Regions from separate parts of the Homo sapiens genome. Here region 2 is linked to region 1. Evidence: fine-mapped expression QTL. A gene starts in region 1. The other region holds a variant in brackets. All regions are shown on one strand. Distances are from middle to middle.

Region 1 (10,611 bases):
ACCAAAAAATACAAAAATTAGCTGGGTATGTGTGGGGGTGCAGGCCTGTAATCCCAGCTACACAGGAGGCTGAGGCATGAGAATCGCTTGAGCCCACGAGGCAGAGTTTGCCATGAGCGGAGATCACGCCAGGGCACTCCAGCCTGGGCAACAGAGCAAGACTCCATCTCAAAAAACAAACAGAAAACAAAAACAAAAAACAATACAGAGAGAAAATAATTTGCACGGGTCACACAGCCAATCAGTGTAATGATCAGATTTGAACCCAAGCAGGATGATTCCAGATCCTGCAGTCAACAGCTGCGTTCTGCTTCTTATCAGGTAAAGCAGGTCTCCCAGAGTGACACACAGAACACACAAAATGAAGAGTGGCCCAAGATCTGGAAATGATCCAGGGTTTGTGAGCATCTGGCACTGGAATCAATCCAAAATCAATGTTTAAATAACAGTTACCTTCACCCCCAAATTGTCTCATTGTCTGACTGCTGAATTTGAATCAGGGCTATGGAGAATGCTGCTTTGTGGTTTACTATACAGTTTAAAAGTCACCATGCCTATACTGACAGCCCAACAAATACACACACAGAGAGAGATAACTTTAAAAAAAAAGAAAAAAAAAGAATTTGGAGTGTAGAAAACAGCTTGGTTGCATTTCTAGTGCACCAACCCCAGAAAACCCAGAGGCTTCAGAATTTGATGAGATTTTTGCAAAGTGTGTTTTCACTACAAAAATGAATTAGATGCCCCGAAGAGCTTCCTCTGTTCTTTGCTTGGCCAAGCACTTGCTGCAAACTTCCCTGAGGGGTTTACCCAATGGTGAGCCTGTAGGAGGAAAAACCAGGGCCCTGGGCTTATTTTTAAAGGAAAAAAAAAAGTAAAAGTTTAAAAAATAACCCCTCTTCATCCATCCTTAGAATTACACTTTCCAGTGAAGTCTAGTACCCTTTCCTGGTAGATATAATCCTAATTAAAAATAAATTACATGCTGTATAGAACTTGAAATGGACAAGATAATCCTATTACATATGAGAATATATCCTGATTTTCTTTCCCGCTAAACTGTGGGAGATATCAGATCAGTCTGAGCCCCCCATTGTCGCCTCTTTGAAAACTTTCCTGGAGCCCTAATCCATCACGTGACGCCCATGTCAATCTTGGTGTTTGCACGCGAGTTTCACAATGCCGGCATTAGGCTCGGTAACAGAAACCCAGCTTTGCGGAGCCCGCAACATTTGCATTCCGAGAAAACGCCGGCCATTGTGGAGCTGTGTTTGTTCTCAAGATTGCGAGACAGTTGCCGGCGAAGTTGCTAAAACCGAGAGAAAGGGGCTCCTTTGGGCCTGCCCAGACCTTTTGGTATGATAACAAGGCGATTCGAGCGGCTTTTGTGAGGCCTGATCAGCACCCGGGCGGGCGAGCTCCCCTCCCTTTCCCCTACTCCTCTCCAGCGCCACCTCCCCGGACATATTTTCCTTCCCGGGGAGTTGCTGCGGACGTTGATGTGCTATTTTAAATCGTATTTCCATAATCGAGTGGCTGTCCGCTGCCGGCCCGGAGCTCACGGTGTTCGCGTGCCTTCACACCTCCACCGCCGGCACGGAAAGACCTGTGCGCGCCGGTGGCGGCTGGAGGCTCGCGGCTCCCTTCCCGGGCTCCCCGGCTCCCAGCTCTCAGCCTCCCGGCGCCGCCGCCGTCGTGGCTACTTCCGATCGACGAGGGCCTGGCCGCGGAAAAAACACTTTAGACCTGCTACCAGCCACCCTACACCCCTCCTCCCGCCTCCTGGCTTTTGCCTGCCCCTACTCCCCTTTCCTTTTCCCACTTTCAAGCACGCCTTGGTTTATTTCAGCCTTGAGAATGAGCATGCTGACGCGGAAGCACTTTGAGTAGAAATTGCAAGTAGTTCCGAATCTCTGGCCAAGCGAAAAACCCAAACTTAGCGCGTGGCGGGGCTCCCGAGTCCAGCCCAGAACTGCGGGGTGCAGATGCGCAGGGGGCGCTGGCGCGAGGTCCGGGTCCCAGCCATTCGCGGCCGGGCTGTGCTCGCGGAAACCGCTGAAATCCCTTCCTTTGGGACTCCGGCCCCATTTCCACCCACTTTCCCCACCTTCCGGGTCCTCCGCCCGGCAGCAGCAGCGCCAGGCGGGCCTGACCTTGCCCTGGGTACGCCAGCGGAAGCGCTGAGGCCGCTGTCCACCAGCCAAGTTCTGAACCTGTTCCCGTCTGGGTCTCCGGGGGAAGAGGGGTGAGGAGAGATGACGTTAGCCTAGGGGCGCTAAAGGTCACCAGCCAGCCCCAGGTTGGGGTGGGAGTGTTGCGGGGCTCGGAAGGAAAATAGAAAGTTCCTTCGACTGCGTGTACCCCCCAAGGAATATCTCTTGGGCGGGGACGGTGGGAGGGCTACATACTAAATCGCACTTGGGAGATGGAAGACAGCGGAAGAAAGGGCTGCGATTTGGGCTCCTGTAGGGGGCGCTCCTCCTTCCACGTCCCCACGCGGCTGCAGATGCCTGGCCTTATTGCTTTTAGCATTCCCAAGACTACAAGGTGGAAGAGGTGGAGAAGGGAACCCAGAGACACACCCCTCTGAGGAAGTCTCCAGCCACTCATCATCCCCCTCCCCAGTCTTATAAGAGCTTGTATTTATGGATGGCTGGAGCTGCATGTTCCGCTCTCTGACAATTCCAAGCACCTCTCATCCCTGCCACCCAGCTCCCTGCTTGGTCTCCCTACTCCAAGGAAACTCCTGACCCTCTTCTGAAAAAAAACCCAAAACACACTCCCTCGAGTTTGAGGGAAAGGAAAACATGGATAGGACGCTGACAGCAGGACCAAAATCGGGATTCTGAAGAATGTTTACTGAATTCAATCTACTTACCAAACCTATCGCCTAAAAAGAAAAATTTCTTCCAGTGAGTGGCTTTTGTTTTTTACCTTTCCTCCTTCGTGTGTATTTGCATAGCCTGCTCAATAAAGCCCTTCAGTAAGAATCATTAAGAATCCGTCTTGTTGCAGATCCGAGCTCCATCTCCCTGGCCGTCAGGGATGGGAGGGGGCTATCTGTGGGGCAGCGCAGCGCCCGGCCAGCCCCAGGATCCGCCCAGCCCAGATTTTGGCAGTGCCGAAGCTCCACACTTTCCTAAGCAGATGGTTAAGTTCCCCCCACGTTCCTGCCAGGTTTCAACGTCACGCTGTGATTTTGTTCTTCTGGAACCGGACGAGTGTTGCTTCCCAGAGTGGCCCTATTAGAACAGAAAGAAAATCCTCTAAATAGGCGGAACAAGGCATCAGGAGGAAAAAGTTCTCTAAATGCACTTTAATACGAGCCGGGTATTGTGTGGAATTCAGCGCCCATCACCGTTTAGCCGGAGAGTTATGGCAGTGATTGGGGATGAATAGAGGAACATAATGGATACATGTGGCGTTTGCTCATTATATTCAAGTTAGTCCAACTCCGCTGTGGAAACTGTTCAACTTTCTCTCCCCTTAGCTTGTCACAGTGAAATAATACAGACATTGGGGCCTCCAATGGGATCGCCTGCCACACCATTCTATTTCCACTGCTAACGAGGGCTTCATAAGCCTTTGATACAGTCTGATCTTTGAAACCTTTCCAAATCTCCTCAAGCTTATGCTAAATCCTATTTGGAACTTTTTTTTCCTTGCCTGCTAGCTCCCAGGGCTTAAGAAGGCCACTTGGACAGTGACGTGCATACTAACATATCGCGGGGCTCTTTTCTGAAAGGGAAGTGGCAGCTCTGATCACTGGGGCTCACACGAGCAAAACACAATTGAGTACACAAATTTGAATAAAATCAATTTTCCCTTATCCTTCAGGCTTCTTAATCGAGAGGCTATTCCAGGCACCGTAGCTAGGAGAGAAGGAAAGCAGAGCCTCATTCAGCAGAGCAAGTCTGTGGGTAGGGGGCTGCAAGGGTTTGGAAGCGTCAGAGGTGCAAAATGCAGAGTGTGTGTGTTGGCAGGGGCTGGGGGAAGGCGGAATCAGGAGCCACTGGGGTGAAACCCCAGCGTGTTCGCACTTAGTTCTAGCCGCGGCACGGAGGGAGGCAGGCGACAATTAACAAAACCATCCGCTCCTTTTACTCCTGGAGCCCTGTGCCAACTCCTCTACATGCAGGGTGCTGACAAGAAAAGGGGGAAAAAGCAAAAGGAGTTAAACAAAAGAAAGATTCCCTAATTTTCCTTTCTTGTTTTCCCCTCTAAGCCTTTCCACATTAAAGGGATTGTCAGAGGCAGGCGGAGGGGCGACGCGAGGGGGAGGCGGCCATTGGCTACCCGGCTCGGGTGATTAGCATATCGGCGGCTATAAAGGCAAAGGCGGCGCGAGGCGGCGCAGCTTCTGTAAGAGACGGAGAGGCGCAGAGTGAGGGCGGGTCCGCGCGTCCTCAGAGCCCGCTGGAGGCTCGGAGCTGCTACCCGCAGACTTCTCCCGCACAGGGCTCGCAAAGAGCGTGATTCCGAGAGCCTGAGACTGACGCCCGACCTGGAAACCAGAGAAGACTTCCTTAGCCTTTCGGATCGCACTTGAGGCTGGAGGCATGAGTCCTGTGAGGCGTTGGGGCAGCCCCTGCCTTTTCCCCTTGCAGCTCTTCAGCCTCTGCTGGGTGCTCTCAGTGGCCCAGAGCAAAACAGTCCGATACAGCACCTTCGAGGAGGATGCCCCCGGCACGGTCATCGGGACCCTGGCCGAGGACCTGCATATGAAAGTATCGGGTGACACAAGCTTCCGCCTGATGAAGCAATTCAACAGCTCTCTGCTCCGGGTGCGCGAAGGCGACGGGCAGCTGACCGTCGGGGACGCCGGCCTGGACCGCGAGCGGCTGTGTGGCCAGGCCCCGCAGTGCGTGCTGGCCTTCGATGTGGTCAGCTTCTCGCAGGAGCAGTTCCGGCTGGTGCACGTGGAGGTAGAGGTGAGGGACGTCAACGACCACGCGCCGCGCTTCCCCAGGGCCCAGATCCCGGTAGAGGTGTCCGAGGGTGCGGCAGTGGGCACGCGCATCCCCTTGGAGGTGCCGGTGGACGAGGACGTGGGCGCCAACGGGCTGCAGACCGTGCGCCTGGCCGAGCCGCACAGCCCCTTTCGCGTGGAGCTGCAGACGCGAGCGGACGGCGCTCAGTGCGCAGACCTGGTGCTGCTGCAGGAGCTGGACCGCGAGAGCCAGGCCGCCTACAGCCTGGAGCTGGTGGCCCAGGACGGCGGCCGCCCGCCGCGCTCCGCCACGGCTGCCCTCAGCGTGCGCGTCCTGGATGCGAATGACCACAGCCCGGCCTTCCCGCAGGGCGCCGTGGCCGAAGTGGAGCTGGCGGAAGACGCGCCCGTGGGCTCCCTGCTTCTCGACCTGGACGCAGCCGACCCCGACGAGGGACCTAACGGCGACGTGGTGTTCGCATTTGGCGCCCGCACCCCGCCGGAGGCGCGCCGCCTCTTTCGGCTTGACCCGCGATCAGGCCGCCTCACCCTGGCCGGGCCCGTGGACTACGAGCGTCAGGACACCTACGAGCTGGACGTGCGGGCGCAGGACCGCGGACCCGGGCCCCGCGCTGCCACCTGCAAGGTCATCGTGCGCATCCGAGACGTCAATGACAACGCACCCGACATCGCCATCACCCCGCTGGCCGCCCCAGGCGCGCCGGCAACCTCACCCTTCGCCGCTGCCGCCGCCGCCGCTGCACTCGGGGGAGCGGACGCTAGCTCGCCGGCGGGAGCCGGGACGCCGGAGGCTGGTGCCACTTCGCTGGTGCCGGAGGGGGCGGCGCGCGAGAGCCTGGTGGCCCTGGTCAGCACCTCGGACAGGGACTCGGGCGCCAACGGGCAAGTGCGCTGCGCCCTCTATGGGCACGAGCACTTCCGGCTGCAGCCGGCCTACGCGGGCAGCTACCTGGTGGTGACCGCGGCGTCGCTGGACCGCGAACGCATCGCCGAGTACAACTTGACGCTGGTGGCCGAGGATCGCGGCGCGCCCCCGCTGCGCACAGTGCGGCCCTACACGGTGCGTGTGGGCGACGAGAACGACAACGCGCCGCTCTTCACGCGGCCGGTCTATGAGGTGTCGGTGCGCGAGAACAACCCGCCAGGCGCCTACCTGGCCACGGTGGCCGCCCGCGACCGGGACCTGGGCCGCAACGGCCAGGTCACCTACCGGCTGCTGGAGGCCGAGGTGGGCCGCGCCGGGGGCGCCGTGTCCACTTATGTCTCGGTGGACCCAGCTACCGGAGCCATCTACGCGCTGCGCAGCTTCGACTATGAGACGCTGCGCCAACTCGACGTTCGCATCCAAGCTAGCGACGGCGGCTCCCCTCAGCTTTCCAGCAGCGCCCTAGTGCAAGTGCGCGTGCTGGACCAGAACGACCATGCGCCAGTCCTGGTGCACCCGGCGCCAGCCAATGGCTCCCTAGAAGTGGCGGTGCCTGGGCGCACCGCAAAGGACACGGTTGTGGCCCGTGTGCAGGCCCGGGATGCAGACGAGGGAGCCAACGGGGAGCTGGCGTTCGAGCTGCAGCAGCAGGAGCCGCGCGAAGCCTTCGCCATCGGCCGCCGCACGGGGGAGATACTGCTCACCGGCGACCTCTCGCAGGAGCCACCCGGTCGCGTGTTCAGGGCGCTCCTGGTCATATCCGACGGCGGCCGTCCCCCGCTCACCACCACCGCAACTGTCAGCTTCGTGGTAACAGCAGGGGGCGGGCGTGGGCCGGCTGCGCCTGCCAGTGCAGGAAGCCCGGAGCGTTCCCGCCCGCCTGGCTCTCGGCTCGGGGTGTCCGGGTCGGTGCTGCAATGGGACACGCCGCTGATCGTCATCATCGTGCTGGCCGGGAGCTGCACGCTGCTGCTGGCCGCCATCATCGCCATCGCCACCACCTGCAACCGCCGCAAGAAGGAGGTGCGCAAAGGGGGGGCCCTCCGGGAAGAGCGGCCCGGGGCGGCGGGCGGCGGAGCCTCGGCTCCCGGCTCCCCGGAGGAGGCCGCCCGGGGAGCCGGGCCCAGGCCCAACATGTTCGACGTGCTCACCTTCCCTGGCACCGGCAAAGCGCCCTTTGGCAGCCCCGCGGCGGACGCGCCTCCGCCTGCGGTCGCCGCGGCCGAAGTGCCGGGCTCAGAGGGCGGCAGCGCCACTGGGGAAAGCGCCTGTCACTTCGAGGGGCAGCAGCGGCTCCGCGGCGCGCACGCCGAGGTGAGGCCTTCCTTCGGCTGGGCGCCCCCCTCCGAGCTCCGCGGACAGGCTGGGGGAAGGGAGACTGGAGGGGTAGGGTGGGTGCATTCAGGTAGACAACCTGTCGCACTTGTTTTTTGTTTGTTTCTTATCCAACCCTCCCCCCACTCCCATTCCCCTATTCCCTGCTGCAGCCCTACGGTGCCTCCCCGGGTTTTGGAAAGGAGCCGGCGCCCCCTGTGGCGGTGTGGAAAGGACACTCCTTCAACACCATTTCTGGCAGAGAAGCAGAGAAGTTCAGCGGCAAAGACAGCGGTAAAGGGGACAGTGATTTCAACGACAGCGATTCCGACATCAGCGGGGACGCTCTGAAAAAGGATCTCATCAACCACATGCAGAGTGGTGAGGACTCTTCTTTCCCGCCAAATTCGGCATTCCTCCCTTCCCTCCCCTTCACCACTGTTTGCCTCCTCTCAATCTCGGTTCCCAGCCCCCTTCCCTCTTCCCCACTTTTTCTCACTCCTACAGCTGCGGATACGGGCCTGCCTCACACGGTGAATTTCAAAATGCCAAGTCGAGGCAACTCCAGCTCTTGAATAAAACACACCCTCATCCTGTTAGGCAGCAGCATGGGTGATGCTAGCCATTAAAAAGTGGGTTCTGCTTATCAATTTTTTTTTTCACTTCCAGCTGAAGAAGCTGGACCAGCTTTGCATTAAGATGGCTTTACAGGAAGCAATGTGCCTTCGATTCTTGAGACACGGTGTATATCTATGCGCACAGCCTTTCCTTTCAGCTGCCCTGACCCAGGCTGACATGCTGAAGATGGAAGCCTGAATATGTATAATCTCAGGAATAATCGTCATGCTGTTTCCTTTTCCCTTTCGTATTAGGACTGTGGGCGTGCACCGCTGAGTGTAAGATCCTGGGCCACTCTGACCGCTGCTGGAGCCCATCCTGCAGCGGGCCCAACGCACATCCATCGCCTCACCCACCAGCCCAGATGTCAACCTTCTGTAAGAGCACGTCACTGCCTCGGGATCCTCTGCGCAGGGACAATTACTACCAGGCCCAGCTGCCCAAGACAGTGGGGCTGCAGAGCGTCTATGAGAAAGTACTGCACAGAGACTATGACAGGACAGTCACTCTGCTCTCCCCTCCCCGTCCAGGGAGGCTCCCAGACCTGCAGGAGATTGGAGTACCCCTCTACCAGTCCCCTCCTGGCAGGTACCTGTCCCCGAAGAAGGGAGCCAATGAAAATGTGTAATCCCATGCTGCATGTCTTCACACATATACAGGTCACTCCGAGAAGCCCCTAAGTTATTGACCGGTTTCAGTGTTGTATATATAAATATGCAAGATGTGCCTTACAATGAAGTTGTTGGAAGCTATTTCCAATCACATTGGTACTGTTTGGTATTTGCAAACAAAAATGTAGTTAATGTAATTTTTATGAAATGTGTGCAGTATTTAATTTTTCTTATGCTATTGACTTTGATTTCAATTGCGGCTTGCCATTTTCTTAGTGTTTTTAACCTGTACATTGTGTAATGTAATGTTTGTATATAATGAAATTTTGTTATATTTTTATATAATAAAAGCTAAAGTGGAAGTTATTGCCAAAGGAACTGTCTGTAAGACAAAAAACAAAACATGTTGGAATTACTTAATTGAAATTTATCTTTCACCTGAAACAACCTAGTGTTTGAGAAATTTTGCCTTGCCAAGTATAACTTGTATATCTTGACTCTGTGGTAGATTTCAAGTTCAATGTTATTTAATTACATTTGGTTTTCCGTAAACCGTGTCACTTATAAGCACAGTAATAAAAGATTTGTCATGTGTTTGAAGAATCTGCCAATTGCTTTTCATGAAGCTGCCTATAGTCAGACATTCACAAATAATTTGAGTATCAGAATGAAACCTTCTTTCAAGTGCTAATTATTTGGGCATTATTAATGTTCATGACAATATTAAACCTGTAGGATTTCAAGTATTGCAAAATGTCACCCAAGTATTAAAAACGTGTGTTGATTTCATAAATTATGTGCATCTCCATATGTATTAGTCTATAAAATCCCTGCTCTCATTTATTCACTAGGTAAATATTCATTGAGCAGCCACCAAAAAGTGAAGAAAGCTAAGTTTGGGTTGTTCATTCACTAATTAAACAAGCATCTGTAGAACTTTTACTAGCTGCTGGTACCTCCTCCTCAAGCTGGAGTTTGAGGTGAAGAAGACGTAGTCCCAAAGAGCCCTCAGCTTATTCGGGGTGTTAGTATCAAAAAGACTAACATCTTAGTCTTTTGGAATATAATAGGTTCCCACTACATTCTGTCCTACTTCCTCTTTCCTTGCCTTCCTCTGGAGCCAGTCTCCAAAGTAACTATCAGCTCTATTCCACTCAAATTTATGGGCAAAATGACATGATGTTTGGGATTCGCTTTAAAATGTTCTAGAAAAAAACACAGGGAGCTATGTGAAACAAGATCGATTTGATAAGATATTGATAATTGTCAATGCTAGCATAGGTGCATGTGAGGTAGGGAAATTTCAGCAGTATCTCTAAATGTTTGTGTTTGAAAATGTACATAATGGAAAGTCTTAAAAAAAGACACTCAAGAGTACTATGCCTATGTCTTATACTCTATGGATTTCATTTGAAATTAAAATGATGATAAGCATAATGAGACCTAACATTTACTGAGCAAGTCTTCTGTGAGCAGAGCTCCTTACCAAGCATTCTGCATGAATTATCTCATTTAATCAGCAAACTACCCCCAGGATATGGGAAGTATCATTAACTCCATTTTGCAATTAAAGAAACCGAGGCACAAGAAGGTTAGATAAAATGCCAAAAATCACACAGCTAATAAGTATCCAGGGTGAGATTCAAACCTAGGTTATTCAGTGCAAAAAATAAAACAAAGTAATGAAACAAGTTGTTTTTGATTTGCTTTTTTTTTTTTACCTGAAAGAAACAAGGAGTTATGTAGAAAAGTCCCAATGCATTGCCTTTGCTGCATGATTACTGTTTAGCCCTTTATATTTGTGAAGTGCCTGTGTTCCTTTATTACTAATTATAGAGTGTGCGGCAGTGTAATGAATAGAGAAGGCCTCAAAGCTGCCTGTTGAAGTCATAATTGAAACCAGTGGTAGCTCCAGGCTGAACAGCAGGGTGGGTACACACAAGTGCTTCACCACCCACAGCCCGTGCAAAGTTCAGCCGTTTCTGCAGGCAACGGAGTCGCACGTGCGCCTGACAAGCTCAGACCGCCCAGACCGTGGGTTCCGAAAGAAAACATTACAGCTCCAGAGCCATGATGGCCAGGCCCTAGGGGAACAGACTCCCAGGTAGACCTACCATTATAACATCTAAAACTTTATTCTCGAGCCAGCCTCATCAAACGCAAAATAGAAGAATGAATGATCCCACTGCAGT
Region 2 (10,611 bases), 21 kb after region 1:
GTTCTCATGATGGTGAGTGAGTTCTCATGAGATCTGATGGTTTTATAAGGAGATCTTCTCTCTTTGCTTCCTACACACTCTCGTCTGCTGCCATGTAAGCCGTGCCTGCTTCCCCTTACTGCCATGATAGTAAGTCTCCTGAGGCTTCCCTGGGCATGCAGAACTGTGAGTCAGTTAAACCTCTTTTCTTTACGAATTACCTAGTCTCGGGCAGTATCTTTGTAGCAGTGTGAGAACTGACTAATACAGTGGCTTTTAGGTAGATTTGAGACGGGACTAGTTCTCAGTCTATTAGGTCTGGATGTAAAAGATTCTGGATGGGCTTGCAGTAACCCTGAGGAGGTAGAAGGTTAAAGCAGTGTTTCTCAAAGTACAATCATTGGACTTCTGGAGATTCTTTAGAATCTTCTGGAAGGTCCACTAGGATAAAACAATTTTCATAATACTACTATGTTATTTGCCTTTTTCACTGGGTTGACATTTGCTCTGATGATACAAAAGAAAGAGTGGGTGAAACTACTACTGGTGCCCTAGCACCAATCAAAATAAGAGTGCCACACTACTAATCACTGGATTTCTTGCACTTACAGAAAAAAGTCCTTAAGAATGACCTTGATGAATCAGTAATAAGTATTACTTTCATTAAATCTCAACCATTGAGTATATGTCTTTTTAACACTAATGTTCTGTGTGACAAAATGGACAGTATGCAGAGAACATTTCTGCTGTGTTCAGAAGCACTATGGTTGTCTCAAGGAAAAGCACTAGCCCAGCTGGGCATAGTGGCTCATACCTGTAATCCTAACACTCTGGGAGGCCGAGGCGAAGGGATCACTTGAGCCTAGGATTTCGAGACCAGCCTGGGTAACATGGCAAAACCCAATCTCAAAAAGGAAGAGAGACAGAGAGAGAGGGAGGGAGAGAGATAAGGAAAGAAAGAAAGAAAAGACAGAGCTCTCTGCTGGTAATAATACTAACAAATGTTAATGTTTCTAAATTTAGTTGATCTACATGACTCAGTGAATCAGTATTTTCCCAGTGGACAGTGGATGATGTCACAAAGTCATGCATAGGTAAATGATCTGTTTAAAGTGCAAGACAGACCAATGTAACAAGGGATGAAAAGTTCATTGATCTGGTTTCAGATTCCAGGGCCACTAATCTGTAAAATACTACCACTTGTAAAGTTTTGGTATAGCGGATCACAAAGAGGGCCACAATTAAATGAAAGGCTAATAAAATACTCTTCCCTTTTCCAACTACATGTCTGTATGATAATGGATTTTCTTCATATACTTAAACCAAAACAACATATTGCAACAGCTTGAATACAGGAGCAATTATGAGAATCCAATTATCTTCTATTCAGCCAGACACTAAAGAAATTCGTAAAAATGTAAAATAATGCCCGTTTCTCATAAAATTGTTTTGAAAAGATACTTATTTTTTGTAGTAATTATATTATTTTGTTAATATGTATTGGGCTCATCATTTTAAATTAGTTATTAATATTTTTAAGAATCTCACAGTTTTAATTTTAATACAGTAAGTATATATACATAAAACATTCATAAACAAAAGTTCTTCAGAGTTTTCAATAAGTTTCAAGAGTGTTACAAACCAAAAATTTGAGAACTACTGAAGTAGAGCATCATGTGAAGGTTAAATTAACAAATATTATATATAAAGTGTGTGGCTTATAAAAAGTGCCTAGTTATAACATTAATAGCCAATATATATTTACTATGTTCAAGCACTATTATAAGTGTTCATTTAACCCTCACAATACCTCTGTGAGATAAGTACAGTTATCTTTTTAAAGATGAGAAAAATGAGGCACAGAGAGGTTAAGCAACCTGTCCAAAGTTAAACAGCTAGTAAATGGTAGAATTAGGATTTGAACCCAAATAGTTTGGCTCCAGATCTGGGTTCCAAATACTTATATTATATTGTCAGTACCTGTTGATGTTGATGTTAGTCATTGTTGGTAATGGTTGTAAGCTAGATTCTGTAGTTTCACATGCTGTATTTATTTTCCTCTTATTATTTTAGGCCTCTTTATAAGGTGTTATTTAATATTCAAAATTAGTCTCAAATCTGCCATGGGATATTAAGGGACTGGAATAAGAGATGGTATTAGTGGAGAAAGCAGTACCACCTCCTATTTTCATGATAGAAACAGAAATTCACAAAGAGCTCAAAAGAATCAGGGCTAAAAAGTCCAGCTGTCCTTCCTCATGCAGAGATTTCACCTCTACAGTCAACTTTAGGGGATTCATGTTACATTTGTCAAGTAAGTTGGCACTTTCCCTATATGCAGACCCCAGCCCTCAAGAAAATGACAATCTAATTGAAGGGAATAAAACAAACATATGAAATAACAGCTAGAACAGATGATAGTAGCTAATTAAGTTCTAAATTAATATGAAACCAGATTGAAATTAAAAAAAATTTTCTTAGATGATTCAGAAAATACTTTGGAGCCTACAGTGCCTCTGGGTCATAATTAAGAACAGTAATTATTATTGTATTCCTGATGTCACAGAATTCTGAGTTCAATTCTTTCACATCTCAATTTGGCAAACTTTTTTTCTACGACTGGTAATCCTGGATTTGGTTCTCAGTTCTCCCCTACGCCCACATAGAGTGCTTTTTCCAGAATGAGCTTTGCTTAGTTGCCATCAGCTACCATCCCTGCACTAAGGGATGCTTTTTCTGTGCATCACTGGGATACTGTTGAGGACCTTTGTTATAACCCACGGAGTTTTGTTTTTTGTTGTTTTTTTTTTGAGACGGAGTCTCGCTACGTCGCCCAGGCTGGAGTGCAGTGGCGCGATCTTGGCTCATTGCAAGCTCCGCCTCCCGGGTTCACACCATTCTCCTGCCTCAGCCTCCGGAGTAGCTGGGACTACAGGTGCCCACCACCACCTCCAGCTAATTTTTTGTATTTTTAGTAGAGACCGGGTTTCACCGTGTGAGCCAGGATGGTCTCAATCTCCTGACATTGTGATCCACCCACCTCGGCCTCCCAAAGTGCTGGGATTACAGGCGTGAGCCACCGCGCCCGGCCACCCACGGAGCTCTTTTTATGGCTGATGCCTGTCAAGTACTGGTACCAACAGTGATTAGACTTCTAGGAGCTACTGGTCTGTTTTACTTTCATACACATCATGAAAGTTGTACGTAACCACGTTTCTTTTCCTGTTTTGATATATAGATGTTTAGAGCCAAGTTTGGGGCTAACCTGTTGCAGGCTCCCTTTTTGGTATATATTTCTATTTTGATCTTACTCTCAAGCTCATTTTTAAGTTACGTTCTTTTGTTCCTAATTGTAATTTTGCTGGCTTATATTTTATTTATCCTTAAAACCCAGTTTAAATTCTTGCAGGAATAAAGTGGGTTATAGATAACTGTTCTGTTCTGTTTCCAATATGGCCTTGTGCAAGTCCTTCAAATCTCTGGGCCTCGTAAATGCTCATCTCTAGAGTGCCTTTCAGCTCGAACATTTTACGATTCTTAGTAGTGGATATATCAGAATTATGGTTAATGGAATCTTTTAGGGCAATGTTAACCGAATTGTGCACTAAACATGTACAATATTTGCTGTGATCCGTCTTAGATGTTACCAATCAACCGGTATTTGGAAATAGATGCAAACAGTGGAGGGTGGAAATACCACTTTCACAATACTTCCCTCTGGTCTTTATCTGTGGCGAAGACATTTTTGCAATGCCTTGTTGAGCACCTACTTTGTGCAAGGCAGAATGCCAGGAGCAGAAACAGCGAATACAATATGCAAGATCTGGTCCCTGCACTTGAGAAGCTTAGCAAAGGGAAACAAACTCTTAGGAAGAGAGTACAAGGGAAGAAGTGAGAAAGGGCAGAAATGCTAAATCAGGGCTGAAATTAAAGGGCCAAACTCCTTAGCTCCTCATAACTAAAGCAAAGTCAGCCTCGACCAGAGAAGAGGTGCTGAGGGCCAGGGAGTCCCTCGGCTGGCCGCGCTGTGGCAGCAGCAGATGAGACCTAAGACCCTAGGTGAAGGAAACTGCTCGCCCTGCTGCTGGTGCCAGAGCTCTGCTCATGTTCATCCATAATAATAAGTACTTCACACGTGAGTTCACTTGTCTTTCCAGGCTCTGCCAAGTTTACGTGCCAGATGGCACTTGCCTCCCACATCTGATTTACTGTAGGGCAGACCAGCTGTGCCTCAGCCCAGGGCAGGCCCACATCTGGCAGCCAGTTGGTAAAATTCTCTCCATATGATGCTTGTGCCCTCATATCATATTCCCCAGAGCAATTCTCTTTCTGTCAACTTTATGTTTGTCTCTTCTCTGCTTATTCCTACGACTATTGTTGAATATCTCTTGGCAATGGATCTGCTTAAGCACCTTTATGTCAGAGAAAAGACTCTCACTGTGAAATGTAAATAATGCTACTACTATATTCTGTAGTAAAAATACTCACGGGTAAAGTAATGTGACAGACACGGATGGCTGCATACCCAAAAATTACTCCTTCCTTTTTCCTGTGTTGGTAAGGCTGACTATTCAGGGAGGCAACTCGCTCCTGCGAGGACCTCAATCCCCCAACCCCAAAGGATGTCAAGGGATTGCTCCAATGTG[C/A]CTCCATTTCCTTTTTTAGGTATTGGTTTGGAGATGAGAGGGTGACTAGGACTGGCCAATGATACATAAGTGAAAGTCTGGTCCGGGGATTCTAGAAATAATTTTGCCCTCTACAAAGAGAGAAAGACATCATCCAAAACAAATAAAAACATACATGCACACAAAGACTTGTCCCCGAGTGTTCAGGGCAGCTTTACTCACACCAGCCCGTATTAGTCCACTTTCGTACTGTGTCCGGAATTGGCGGGTTTTTGGTCTCACTGACTTCAAGAATGAAGCCACGGACCCTCGCGATGAGTATTACAGTTCTTAAAGATAGTGTGTCCAGAGTTTGTTCCTTCTAATATTCGGACGTGTTGAGTTTCTTCCTTCTGGTAGCTTCATGATCTCGCTGGCTTCACGACTGAAGCTGCAGACTTTCCCGGCGAATGTCACAGCTCTTACAGCGGCACATCCGCAGCTGTTTATTTCTCTTGGAGAGCTCATGGTCTTGCTGGTCTCAGGAATGAAGCTGCAGACTTTCCCCTTGAGTGTTACAGCTCAAAAAGACAGTCCGCACCCAAATAGTGAGCAGCATCAAGATTTACTGCAAAGAGCTAAAGAGCAAAGTCTCCACTGTGGAAGAAGACCCAAGCGAGTTGCCGGGGCTGGCTCCGCAGCCTGCTTTTATTCCCTTATCTGGCCCCACCCACATGCTGCTGATTGGTCCATTTTACAGAGAGCTGATTGATCTGTTTTGACAGGGTGCTGATTGGTGCGTTTACAAACCTTGAGCTAGACACAGAGTGCTGATTGGTGTATTTACAATCTTTTAGCTAGACATAAAGGTTCTCCAAGTCCACACCCAACTCAGGAGCCCAGCTGGCTTCCCCTAGTGGATCCCGCACCAGGGCTGTGGGTGGAGCTGCCTGCCACTCCCGCACCTCCCGCCTGCACTCCTCAGCTCTTGGGCAGTCCATGGGACCGGGCGACGTGGAGCAGGGGGTGGCGCCCATCAGGGAGGCTCAGGCTGCGTAGGAGCCCACTGCGGGGGTGCTCGGGCATGGCAGGCTGCAGGTCCTGAACCCTGCCCCATAGGGTGGCAGCTGAGGCCCCACAAGAATTCGAGCCTGGTGTGGTCCCGCCAGCAGTGCTGGGGGACCCGGCACCCCCTCTGCAGCTGCTGGTCCGGGTGCTAAGCCCTCCACTGCCCGGGGCCAGCGGCACCGGCCAGCCACTCTGAGTGAGGGGCCGCAGAGCCCAGGCCCACCCGGAACTCGAGCGCCGAATGCAGCCCAGGTTCCCGCCGGCACCTCTTCCTCCACACCTCCCAGCAAGCAGAGGGAGCCGGCTCTAGCCTCAGCCAGCCCAGAGAGAGGCTCCCACAGTGCAGCGGCAGGCTGAAGGGCTCCTCAAGCGTGGCCAGAGCGGACGCCGAGGCCGAGGAGGTGCTGAGAGTGAGCAAGGGCTGCCAGCACGTTTTCACCTCTCACTACTGCTATAAAGAAATACCTGAGACTGAGTAATTTGTAAAGAAAAACAGTTTTAATGGACTCACAGTTCCACATGGCTGGGGAGGCCTCACAATCATGATGGAAGGCAAAGGAGGAGCAAAGGCACATCTTACATGATGGCAGGCAAGAGAGTGTGTGCAGGGGAGCTGCCCTTTATAAAACCATCAGATCTCCTGAGACTTATTCACTATCACGAGAACAACATGGGAAAACCTGCCCTGGTGATTCAATTACCTCCCACTGGGTCCCTCCCATGACAGTGGGGTTTATGGGAGCTACAGTTCAAGATGAGATTTGTGTGGGGTCAGAGCTAAACCATATCACAGCCCTAAACTGCAAACAACTCAAATGTCTGCCTGCAGGTGAATGGATGACAAATGGTGGTATAGTCAAACAACAGACTACTACTCAGCAAGAAAAGGAGTGAACTACTGATACATGCAACCACATAGATGAGTCTTAGAATTAGTATGCAGCACCTGAGTCCATACTTTGTGTCTAATTTCTATGAAAACCTAGAAAAGATCAATTTAATCTATAGTGATAGGAAGCAGATCACTAGTCACTGGGGGATGGTGGGGAGATTGAGTGGAAAAGGGCTCAAAAGGACTTCTTGGGGTGATGAAAGTCTTCTGTATCTTGATTGTAGTGAAGATTATACAGATGTATACATTCGTCAAAACTTATCTGGCCATATACTCAAAATAGGTGAACTTTGTTACATGAAATTCTATTGCAATAAATTTGAAATGGAATGAAAGAAGTAAGAAGAAAGCTTGTACCTTCTTCCTCCATGAATATTGTTGTACAGAGATGCATGCTTGGAGCTGAGACAACCATCCTGCAGCTACAAGATGATAAACCTGCAATTCCCAAACCATGCACTGAGGCACCCTGGAATGCTACAGTGAACTCCAGAGGCATCACAATGTAAATTTGCAGGGGAAAATTTTAAAAACAGTGATAACATATCAAGCATCATGAAAACTGCTAGATCCAGACAGTTCCTACTTTCAATATTAGATTGCACTAAATTCCTTTTGATAGCATATCTTTGTGAAATGCGGTTTTCAGCAGTTGTAATTTTTTTAAAGTACTGTGCAAAAATGAAAATGCAATGGGAGTTGAGGATAGCAGTAAAGTTCAAGAAATTGTATAGTGCCCATCAGAATTATGGATCCCATTAGTAAATAATTACAGTTATTTACCAATGAAATGAAAATACTTTGTCTTTCAATTTGTGTGTATTATTTTTTTCAAATGGCTACTCAATTATTAGGTCATGAATATCTACTAAATTGTTTGGACCTATTAATAATTACCCAATAAACATAAATTTTAGGTATTTATTTTGGCCTAGTGGCACCATTAAAAAAAAATCACTGAGACACTAAGGGTACTACAGACCAGAAAGTTTGGGACCCTTTGTAATAAACCTGAGTAAAAAGCCAACATGCTTAAGGAGTATAAATATACAGTTAGATAGAAAAAATAAGTTCTAATCTTTGATAGCAGAGTGGGCAACTGTAGTTAACAACAATGTATTCTATTTAAAAATAGCTAGAAGAGAGGACTTGAAATGTTCCCAACGTATAGAAATGAGAAATAGTGGAGGTGATGGAGACCCCAAATACCTGACTTGATCATTACACAGTCTATGCATGTGACAAAATATCACATATACTCCATAAATATGTACAAATATGTGTATCAATAAAAATGTTTGTTTAAGCCAATATGCTAAGAATGGCTGAGCAGATAAAAAGAGCTGGGGTCTTTAGTAATATCACTGCCTTGCCACACACGCATACAATGAAATACCTACCTCCAGACTTTTATGTAAGATACATAAATGTCAATACAATAAATGTCTTTATGGCCTAAGCCACTATGATAAGACTAAAAAATCAAATAAATAAGAAGAATCATCTACATACCCCACATCCTGACTTTCCTCCTTGAAAGTAAGGCATGTATCCTTTGAGTGCCTTCTCTATGCATTTGTATGCAAATAGTTATCTCTAAGTGTGTTTATAACATAAATGTAACAGTTTTATAACTTGATTTTTTCACTTATGCCTTAAAGAGTTTTTGAAACTGCTGCTTATATCGCACTGTGTGAATGTACCATTCCATTATAGATGCGTATTCAGAGGATATCCAATTTTTAAGATAAGCATCATTGTGGTGAATACCCTTGTAAATGTTTCTGATGCAACATGCCAGTATTTCTGCAGCTATAGAGATGCCTTGGAGTGATAATTCAAAGAATGTACAAATTTTGAATTTTGGAAGATACCGATGGGCTGAACCAATTCAGTAGCGAGTAAGAGTACCAATTTCCCCATGCCCTTGTTAAAGTGGTCATGGTGGATGCCTCCTTATCCACGTGATAAGGATAAGCCCATTTCCCTTTCCAGAGATGGGTTTAGGGAGGGAAATGTGACCCAATTCTGGGCTAATGAACCACGAAGGAAAATGTGCCTGGGGAAACTTCTAGAAAGGTTTCCTTACTCCTAAAAGAGTCACAAGAGAAAAGATCCCCTCTTCTTGTGAAACTTTTCAGGACTGGATGTGGTATCTGGAACAGGCTTAACCCTTTTGCCACTCTTAAGAGTTACGGCCTTAGGATGAAGTTTGGCAGAGCACTAAAGAAAGGTCATTATAAGTCACTGAAGGTACCACACCAGGAAGTGGCCATATCTGTAGACATTTGGTTATGTCAAATAACAAATTCACTAACTCTTCAAGGCAGTTTAAATCATGTGTTTATGCTACCTACAACCAAAAAGCTTACTGATATATATGTGATATTATTGAATGGTTTCTATCATTTAAAATTTGTGTTCAATCTTAGTGTGGATAAAAATTGATGTCACATTCTTATTTTAATTTGCATTTCCCTTTTATTAATAATGTTGAGTGTTTTTCACATATATATTGACTTTTGTATTTCTTCTACTGTGAATTGCTTATTCACGTCCCTTGTTCATTTTTTTTTGATTGTCTGTTGATTTATGAGAGTTCTTTAAGTATAATATACATTAATCCTTTGTGTATTTTATATCTTGCAAATACTACCTCCCACAGAGAATTTTTGTGTCTTGGATTTTGTTTTGTTTTGTTTTGTTTTGTGTAGTCAAATCTACCCATTTTTTCTTTTCTGTTTTTTTTAATCTGTGTCTTACATAAGAAGGCTTTCTCCATTTCAGCATAATTTTTCTTAAATCTCCTATTTTTCCAATATTTTAAAGTTTAGGTTTTATGATTAGCTTTTTAATACCTCACCCATTTATTTTTGTGTTGGCACAAGGTTAAATTCCAACTTTATTTTTCAAAATGAATAGGTACTTTTCCCAACATTGTTCTGAACATCACCTCCCACTACCTGAAATGCCATTTTCATCAAAAACTAAAGTGCCATAAATTGATTTGTGTTTCTGGATCCTCTATTCTGTATTACTAATCTGTCACTTTTTGCACAAGTTTAATTCTTAAACTTGAGGACCATATTTTGATATCTGGTAGGGCAAGCCTCTCCTCCACTACTTATCAAAATGTTTCCCAGTTATTCTTATGCTTTTTCTCCCCCAGATTAATTTTAGTATATGTTTACCAAATTCTGGGGATTTTATTTGGATGGCAGTGACTCCAAAGACTGCCTTGGGGAGCACTGTCATCTTTACAATGTTGAGTAATTCCATTTTGGGTGTGTCTCTGTTTTCAGGGTTCAATTCTTGGTTTTTATAATAATGTTGTCATCATCATTTTATAGTTTTTTTCATTATTGCTCTTGCCCATTTCTTGTTAGGGTTATCATATCAGTATTCTTGGTGTTTTGTGCATTTTATTGTTGTGAATATGATTTGAATCTTTTATCCCTCTTGTTTTCTTAGTTATTTCTAGTATATAGAGAAGCTATTAATTTGTGGAGATTAATTTTGTGCCTAGCCATCTTACTGACCTATCTTATAGGATCCAACTATTTGTCAGTTGATTTGCTTGCACTTCCTAGCCAGGTTATATAAAATATTGTTCTTGATTTGGTTTAATGCATTTGACCTTGACATTGTTTCATCTGATACCAAAATGACCATACTTGCTCTTTTAGTCAAACTTTTCCTGGGAAATATTTTCCCATCTCTTTATTTCCAACCTTAATGTGTGTGCATGCGGTATGTGTGGGTTGTTTATTTGATTTAGATCTGTTTTTTAGGCCAGGCATGGTGGCTTACACCTGTAATCCCAGAACTTTGGGAGTCCGAGGTGGGTGAATCACCTGAGATCAGGAGTTTGAGACCAGCCTGGCCAACACGGCTAAACCCTATCTCTACTAAAAATACAGAAATTAGCCAGGCATGGTGGCACATGCCTGTAGTCCCAGCTACTCGGGAGGCTGAGGCAGAAGAATCGCTTGAACCCAGGAGGCAGAGGTGCAGAGGTTGCAGTGATCTGAGATTATGCCACTGCACTCCAGCCTGGGTGGAGTGAGA

Alleles and levels. Alleles are on the strand shown, and positions count from the first base shown. SD is a standard deviation of normalised expression in the study named.
In carriers of allele C in region 2, the expression in thyroid of the gene that starts at base 4,356 in region 1 tends to be higher than with A alone (moderate effect, 0.44 SD a copy in GTEx).

The links.
Region 2: its variant is fine-mapped to the expression of PCDH8 in thyroid (GTEx, PIP above 0.99).

The regions. Positions count from the first base shown.
Region 1 is chr13:52,842,385-52,852,995 of GRCh38, reverse strand. It overlaps PCDH8 (protocadherin 8), which reads left to right and starts at 4,356. Exons shown (of 3, transcript NM_002590.4): 1 at 4,356-7,190; 2 at 7,364-7,571; 3 at 8,063-10,107. The coding sequence starts at 4,560. The coding sequence ends at 8,436. RefSeq lists enhancers at 1,444-1,653, 2,328-2,622, 3,968-4,262, 4,393-5,282, 5,283-6,171.
Region 2 is chr13:52,821,585-52,832,195 of GRCh38, reverse strand. No RefSeq gene overlaps it. Among named protein-coding and RNA genes, the nearest start is that of MIR759, 17 kb to the right of the region's middle. The variant C/A (reference allele first, on the strand shown) is at 4,626.